Linked DNA regions of Homo sapiens: region 2 is linked to region 1. Evidence: fine-mapped expression QTL. A gene starts in region 1. The other region holds a variant in brackets. All regions are shown on one strand. Distances are from middle to middle.

Region 1 (4,401 bases):
TTAGGATATTGGTCTATTATGTGAGAAATTGACTTCTCTACATTTGGTATTTACAAAAAAAACACTGCAAGCTTCCTCAATCTGTTGTTTCATCACACTTGCATTAGGAAATATGAGATACAACAGAGAAAAAAAGTCACACTTTCAGAATTCTGATGCTTATATGTCTGATGCAAATTTAATATTTATGTGTCCTTTCCAAAGGTGTAATCTAAAAATCACTTTGATGAGAGGAATTTTCACACACTTTTCTCAGAAATAAGGTTATTTTTTCTTTTTCTTTTTCTTTTTTTGTGACAGAGTCTCACTGTGTTGCCCAGGCTGGAGTGCAGTGGTGTGACTGCAGCTCACTGCAGCCTTGCCCTCCTGGGCTCAAGTGATTCTCCTGCCTCAGCCTCCCAAGTAGCTGTGCCTACAGGTACATGCCACCATACCCAGCCAATTTTTGTATTTTTAGTAGAGACGGGTTTCGCCATGTTGCACAGGCTGGTCTGAAACTCCTGAGCTCAAGTAATCCGTCCACCTCGGCCTCCCAAAGTGCTGGGATTACAGGCATGAGCCACCGAACCTGGCAGAGGTCTTAATTTTTTAAAGAATCTCTTAATGCTGTGGGACGGCTTTTCTTGCCACTAAACACAAAGTTTCAGATTACAATTACGCCACAGATAGACATCTACAAACCTTTTAGAACATACAACAGAATAAGGTGGGACTCCTCTACAAAATTCATCTATTTTATACTTAGTTAAGATTCACGTTTGGTTGTGATTATTTTTAATTTTCTAATTTCCTATAACTCCACAGTTTCTACCGTCAAATATATTAGTAATATCCAATTTTTACAAAAGGGACCAAGAAGTATTGCCTAGCAATAAAAACCATACGTTTTGATGTCAGAGTTGTGTTGGGTTCCACAATTAACAGCACTGTGACCTTGAGCAGATTACTTAATAGACATAAACCTCATCTGCAGGCCGTTCATAGCTACTTCTTTCAGCCATGAGGATATAGATAATCACACAGAAGACTCAGTACAGTACGTGGGATATGGTAAGCAATGTTTAATTGTGATTTCATGTAAAAGTGGGAGGGAAATAAAAGGCAGGAAAGAATGTGAAATTAAGTTTGTCATCCCGGTCCTCTTGCAGCTGAAATTCAACTGAGGGACACACATAAAGATCAAAGCACTGCTACTGGGAATCGGCACGGAAATTTACAAACTCACCATAACCAATGCAAGAGTATTTTTTCCCTGCCCAGGCAGGGAGGGGAGTAAATTATGTGGCGCTGGCCAGGTTAGAAAACACTTCGATTAAATCTGTCTCACCAGCATAGAATTAAGCATCTGATAAGAAATAGGGTGTGTAGTAAAAGGGATAAATAGGCTGTTTGAAGTCAACAACCTCTTTCCAGATCTTTTAAGAGCCAATTATTCTGCCAAAATGACTGGAGTGCTTAGTACAATACCTGACATGTAGAGTTATCATTAAAAGTTTGCAATTAGTACTACTGTCTCAGTGTTTGCAAAAGGCCACAAAACGGTCTTGTGTCCTTTTCCTGTGTGTTTAAGGTAGATTGCCTTTTCACAGGGTCACTGCTCTGACAATTTGGGATGGAGGAAGAGGAGTGCACAAGGGTCCTTCCTCAAGACCTTTACGTCAAGCACCCCGGAGGGCCCCTGCAGGAGCTGGGGCAGTACAGCCTGGCCCCGACGCCCGCACCGGGCAGATACCGGGAGCGGCCCGCCAGGCCCCCGGGGCTGCGGGGCGGGGATCAGGGGATGAGGCAGCGCGGCCTGCGCTCCGGGTGTCCCCCTCCCAGCCCCCCGGGCCCGCTGCGGCTGGTCCCCTAGGCCTGGGGTGGGGGGAGGCGGGGGTCCCCGGAGAGGGCCCCGGCCTCCCGGCAGCACTAACTTCTCAGCCAGCAGCTCCTCTATTCTCCTTCTTTTCTTCTCCCTAAAAGAGAGAATAAAAGAAGGGTCAGCATCGCGCTACACACTGGGCGCCGCGAGGGGAGGGGGGCGAGGGGACGGGGCGGGGGGTGTGGGGACCCCGGGTGGCGGCGGCAACCGCCCACCGCCGCGCTCTCTCACAACCCAGCCCAGCCCGGCGCGTCTGCAGAGCCCCGGTACTTACGGCTCCTCGCCATCCGCCATATTGTTCTCCGCCTCTTCCCAGGTGCCCACGCGCGGCAGGGCGGGGAGGAGCGGGACTGGCAAAGCGGGGAGGGGCGGGGCTGGCGAAGCGGGGAGGGGCGAGGCCAGAAACACAACCGGCAGGGAGGTGCGAGGTTGACTGCGGCTGGGCTCCCATGGGCTTTAAAGTCTTGCCCTGTAATTATAATCTTAATTACCTACGCTTAATTAGGTGAATCTTATACCGTGCATAATGTTGCTCTGCAGCGTGAAAATGTAGACAATACATTATGCGTTTACACAAACTATATGTTAATACGTAATTATACAAAATATTGGTATATTCTATGAAAAATTCGTGAAGAACCCTCCCAGTATGCCAGAGCTTTCCTCTGGGGGCAAAGATCAAGGAAATTTTCACTTTCTGCTTTTCAGGATGGTTCCAAAGTCTTTGCCTTTATAAGTACTCACTTGAATAATAAATTTATCTAAATCCGTTTACATTGGTGGGGTGGGAGATTATTATTTTCTTTGAACAAATCAGCATTAATATTTTCATGTCACATTCTGTTAGATAAGTTCAGCGGAAACAAAATGATTAAAACTTTTCCTGAGATAAATGTGTATATTTAGATACAAAGAAAAAAGTATAAAGGAAAACAATCACAAAAATCAAAGAATAACTGAGAACACCCATAATCCTATCACCTAAAGATAAATTGTGATAAAAGTTTCAATTATTTTCTTCTAGAGTCAGAAATACAAATATACACTGTGAATCTGGATGGCTGGATAGAGGGAAATGATCATGTTCAAAAATGTATGTATATACACGTACACACACATCTCCTTCTATGGAGTGGGACAAGAATGATATTTGGAATCAAAAGTAACTGATTTTAAATTCTTCTCAGTTGTGAGCTACGAAACCCTTAGACACTTCTATTTCTTCATTTATAAAGTGGGCATAACACTATTCACCTTGTAAGACTGATAATTAAGTAAAATCCAGAGTGGCTCTCAAAATACAGTTCCTGATCAACATCACTTGGGAAGTTTTTTTTAACACAAATTTTCACCCCTCACCGCCCCCACCACGCTCCCCACCGCCCCCCCGCCACCCCACCCTTCAGCCTTCTGCAAAGCCTGGGGTGATTCTCCACTGGTAAAGTTTGAGGGCCACTGAAATGGAGTACATAAAGCCTGATGGGTACTCAGTAAATGTAGCTGCTGTTACTACACTGTGATATTTAACCTCCTCTTGTCCTAGTTTTCAGTGAACCTTAAGGAAAGCTTGTCCTTTATGGTCCCCCAATTAGGTTCAGTTCAATAGCATTCACTGAGCTGAAAGTCAATGCCAGGCAGTGAGCGTGGGAATAGAGTTCACAGTCCCTATCAAGAGATACCAGCCTCCTTCTGCATCACATGTCTCAGCGTCAACTATGAAACTACTTTTTCTTGCCCAGACAACTCCACAGATGGTTTCACTGAGGATTTAACCTCAGTGCTTATCAAAATGGGCTCCTGTAGCCTGAACCCCCAACAATACTGGATACCCTTTGATTAGTGGTAGTGAGCATTGCAACCCTCTCAGATAGTGAAAAGCAGCAGTCACCTTAAAGGCCACCTAGTCCAGTCTCACCCATTTCACAGGGGAGGAAACTGAGGCCTAGGGATAGAGTACAGCTAGCCGATGAAGAAGTCTGCAAAGGTATCTGGCCCTGCATCTGCTTGCTTTGAGACTAACAGCCTGACTCACCATGGTGGTATTTTGATAAACGACACCAGGCACTCTCACTGGCTTAGATTGATTGACGGATTAGAAATAGCCATCTGCCCTTGCCAGGAATGAAAGCAACAGAGACATGCAAGCAAAACCTTCAACAGATTTATTTTACTTCAAATGGAACATATCATAAACAATTAGACTATCTGCTATGGTTTTTAAACAGACAGATAGTCTGAATGGTCCTATCTAGACACACCAGTCCCATTATAAAAGCCCCATCAAGCAGGGCTCGGCTTCCCACACCTGTAGTCCCGGCTACTTGGGAGGCTGAGGTGGGAGGACTGTTTGAGCCCAGGAGTTTAAAACCAGCCTGGGCAACATAGTGAGACCCTGTCTCTAAAAATAATAATAAATTAAAGCTCCAGAAAGACCTCTACAGTGAATCTGACCCCTCCCTCCCCGGAATGAACACTAACAAAGAGCTGCTACTAATAGCATTTCAAACAGTTACTGGAAAAAAGTAATGACTCATTACATG
Region 2 (4,401 bases), 140 kb before region 1:
TTGCAGTGAGTCAAGATTGAGCCACTGCATTCCAGCCTGGGCAACAGAGTGAGACTCCATCTCAAGAAAAAAAAAAAAAAAGAAAGAAAGAAATTATTTTTTCTCTAACCCCTATCTGCTCCATCAAAATTTACTGGTTCTCTGTACCTTCACCTTATAGACTGTAACAGGTGACCGTATCAAATCTGCTAATCATTTCCAGATATAAATAAAGTTTCTAACTGTTATCCCTCCCACATTTGTAGCATGTCTGTGTGGTAACACAAGAAACAATATATTAACCCATTATTCTCCAAAATATGGTTTTTATTCCACAGATGGGTTGCAAAATGACTTTACCTGAAATGCAAAAGAATTTTTTAATAGTTTTCATTGTTTTAATGTACATCAGGAAAAAGTTAAGTGAGAATATCAAACCTGTGGTTTCATGGATATTGCTATTTGGAATGAGGCTAAATTCAAAGGTGATTCCAATTAAAGAAAAATATATGGATAATAATTTAAGTAAATGGCAAAATTGGAAAGGTGGGGCATAACACAATCAGAAGGGGGCTGAGATTTATGAAAATAGGAGTGACTCCATTGGCAGAAATGGCCAATGAGAATGCTATTCTAAAGAAACACAGGATTTGCAGTGCCTTCATATTCCACCATGGGCCTAGCCTGATTCCATCCTTAATGTTCTCTTCTCTCTCTAGCTCTGCAACCCTAAGGGGCAGCCACTCTGCCTCACACTGAATGATGATGTATACTGAGAATTTCTTCCTTCCCCGTTCACCAACTCAGCTTCCCCTGAAACGACTCAATCTAGTGAGGATGGTGGCAAAGATGGGCTGACAGTTAAATATCTTTGGAACTTGGGTTCTGAGCGTGCTGAGTTTGTGTCTTGCAAGTTGATATTGTGACAAAATAAAGGTGGAAAGAGAAACCATGCTGGTGGTCATTACCTGTCCTGTCTAATCTCCTAGAATTCTAGTGCAAAGTTTTGGAGAAAACCGAAAAATAAGAGTTGGGTTTTATTCCAGTTTTTTTTTTCTATCTATCATATTCTAACACATGCAACAAAAACCACATGCCATTTGACTTTTATTTTTGGACTTGAGTTTTTTGCCTCTACCTTGGAACATTATTTTGTAAAAGGTCATGAATGTTAAAGTAGGACTTAAGAGGCTTCACTTGGACAACTGACATTTGAAATACTCTCAATCAGGGACTTTCTCATCAGGGAAGCTAAATCTATCCATAGACCTCAAATCCCATGGATTTCAAGCTGGATGCAGTACTAGACATTTGCCTGCCTGCCAAGCATCTCCCGAGAAAGCGTCCTAGCCAAAACCCTTGATTGCAGGTGACAGAAACCCAACACAACTGGCATAGGCAAAAAGGGACAGCTATCTGCTCACATAACTGAGAAGTTCCAGAAGTGTGGTTGGATATTAGTACTCAGGGAAGGAATGTATGTGTATGTATAATTTCCCCATCTCTTGGCTTTTTTTTTTCTTTTTTTATTGTTGGCCTCATTCTCTTATCAAGAAGAGGCTACATCCAAAAAGCAGAGGAAATGTTATTCAATAATCCCAAGCTATTCCCTTCCAGCCACGTGACCCTAAAGGCAACAAGAATTCTCCTCTGACTTCAGTTTTTTAAAAATCTAGCCCAGCTTGTTTCACAAGTCTATGTCCATGCCCAGGTTGGGCAAGGGGGGGCGGTGGTGAATGGCAGCCCCACTATCATTACATGGTTATAAATTCCTAGAAAAGAAGGAACGTTGGACAATGCTCACTAGTGTCCATTGCGGAAAACTGCCCTACCCACTGCCCTGACTGAACAACTAACCATGTTCCGTATTACCCAACCCACGTGGCAACAGCTAAATAAATTATGTTTGAGGTCCTAAGCCAGGTACAATTCATCTATCCAGTTCCTCTGATTTGTGTGACCTGGCTGGAAAAGTGGCATGAGCCAAACAGACTTTTCTTCCTGGAATTTGAAAATGGGGGCCCTAGAGACTGAGTCATTTGGTTGGGGCAGTTGAACTAAATGTCATAATAAAGTAGAAGACATGACAGACAATTATGGACGATGTGCAATTGAAGCTATGAAGAAGCCAGTCTACAGAGTTGGAGATCTGAGACCACAGCAACTCTAAAAGAGATATTCAGGAAGTAGCTGACTCGGTTTACTGGGAGCTTCAGTGCTTGAAAATTTTGTGTTTGAGTAGAATATCTAGGTAAGAAAAGGCTAACATATTTAGTGATTTTACCCACATT[G/A]TCTTATTTTCTCTTTGTAGTAACTCCATTAGAAGTTATTTATTTTCTCCATTTTTACCAATGAATAAACTGAGGCTCAGAGAACATATGTGATGTTTCTTAGTGTGACTTGTTTCAAGCTAGAAAGTCTCTAAGTCAAGAATGCTTTTCCCCTACTCCAAGTTGCCTCAGAATCTTGAGTGGTAGAGATCTGGGCTGGAGACGTGGATTTGGAAATCATCTGCTTAGATGCTTAGAGGTACTCATTGCAGCCACAGAGGGGAATGAGGCTGTCAAGTGAAAGTACACAGTTAGGGAATTACTGTGATAGCCTCATCTATTGGGCACTCACTCTGTGCAAGGCTCTACACATTATATACTAGTAATGACTAATTGTATGTGTTGAATTAACTGGGCCACAGCATGCCCAGATATCTGGTTAAACATAATGTCTGGGTATGTCTGTGAAGGTATTTCTGAAAGAGATTGATATCTGAATAGGTAAACTAAGTAAAAAACAGACGGCCCTCCCCAACGAGAGAGGGCATTACCCAATTCATTGAGTCCCTGAATAGAACAAAAAGGCAGAAAAAGTTTGAATTCACTCTCTGGCTGACTGTTTGAGCTGGGACATCGATATTCTCCTGCCTTCAGCACTCCTGGTTCTCAGGTTTTTAGATTTGGATTGGAATCTACACCATCAGCTATAGAGCTCTCAGTGTTTTGAGCTACACCCCTGGCTTTCCTGAGTCTCCAGCTTGCAGATGGCAGATCATGGAGTCTCAGCTTCTGTAATTGCATGAGCCAATTACCTTAAAAAAATCTCAGGTTTGTTATATATATAAATAATGTATATTTATATATAATATATATTTATAATGTATATATAATATATATTTATAATGTATATTTATATAATATATATTTATAAATAATGTATATTTATATATAATGTATATTTATATTTACTTTTATATAATTTGTATTTAAATTTATTTTTGTATAATTTATATTTATTTATACAAGCTATACTTATAATTTATATATATAATTTATATTCATATTTATTTCTATATATATCCTATTGGTTCTGTTTCTCTGAAGAACGCTGACTACTATAGTATTCTATCAACAGAAGCAAGATTGAGGTAGAGTTTACAGAGGTTCACAGTGACCATGCTTCTAGGTGTCATGAGATGGAAGGAACCTCAAGCAGTTTCTGTTCTAGGATTTGGTCATTTTCCTGCCATGCTCATGTTCCATTACCCTCGTAGTATGCCTGGTCTGAAAAATTCAATCTGCCTTAACCATTTGAATCTCTAAACAAACCTTGCAAATTAATACAAGTCTCAAGGACCAGGCTGAAGAGAACGAGACGGGACCTGGAGAATATAAAAAAGCGGGTATCAGCTGGGCGCCATAGCTCATGCCTGTATTCTCAACATTTTGGGAGGCCAAGGCAAGAGGATCGCTTGAGGCCAGTAATTGGGAAGACCAGCCTGGGAAAAATAATGAGACCCTGTCTTAACAAGAAATTTAAAAATTAGCCGGGCGTCATGGCAGGCACCTGTAGTTCCAGCTACTCAGGAGGCTAAAGCAGGAGGGTAAGTTTAGCCCAGGAGTTTGAGGCTGCCGTGAGCTATGATTGGGCAACTGTAGTCTAGCCTGGATGACAGAGTGAGACCTTATCTCTTTAAAAAAAAAAAAAAAGTGGGTATCAGGTTGAATATGGCGACACCCCAAAGTGACACTCCCACCCAGTCTTGATAAACAAGGTTCCAAATTGAGTTAATTTTGCCCCTAGCAAATTCAAAACATTCTAACATTTTCATAAGATTCTTAACAAAAACAAAAAAGTAATGTGTGATTCATTATGTCAGCATTTTATTTTTTAAGGTTATTAGAACACACTGACATACATTTTAAATAATAAATAAATGCACTGAGATGATTTTTTAAATACTCCCTTGTACTTCCTTTTACTCCATGCCCCTTCTTTCCTTCTTGCACTCAACAAATTGCAGCAGCTAAACAGTATGCTTACAGCCCTAGGGAAAAAAATACCAAAGCAAAACTCTGAGAACAAAGAGACAAAGCCATGGCTTATGAGTTTCAAAATAGGCTGCTGAAACCCACACCAGAGATAATAGTT

Evidence for each region. PIP is the estimated chance that this variant, and not a neighbour inherited with it, causes the effect.
Region 2: its variant is the best candidate, but not a certain one, in a credible set for the expression of UBA3 in whole blood (INTERVAL, PIP 0.89).

The regions. Positions count from the first base shown.
Region 1 is chr3:69,078,199-69,082,599 of GRCh38, forward strand. It overlaps UBA3 (ubiquitin like modifier activating enzyme 3), which reads right to left and starts at 2,167. Exons shown (of 18, transcript NM_003968.4): 1 at 2,136-2,167; 2 at 1,914-1,955. The coding sequence starts at 2,155. RefSeq lists silencers at 1,646-1,875, 1,996-2,085, 2,206-2,275 and an enhancer at 3,879-3,938.
Region 2 is chr3:68,939,481-68,943,881 of GRCh38, forward strand. No RefSeq gene overlaps it. Among named protein-coding and RNA genes, the nearest start is that of TAFA4, 9.1 kb to the left of the region's middle. The variant G/A (reference allele first, on the strand shown) is at 2,271.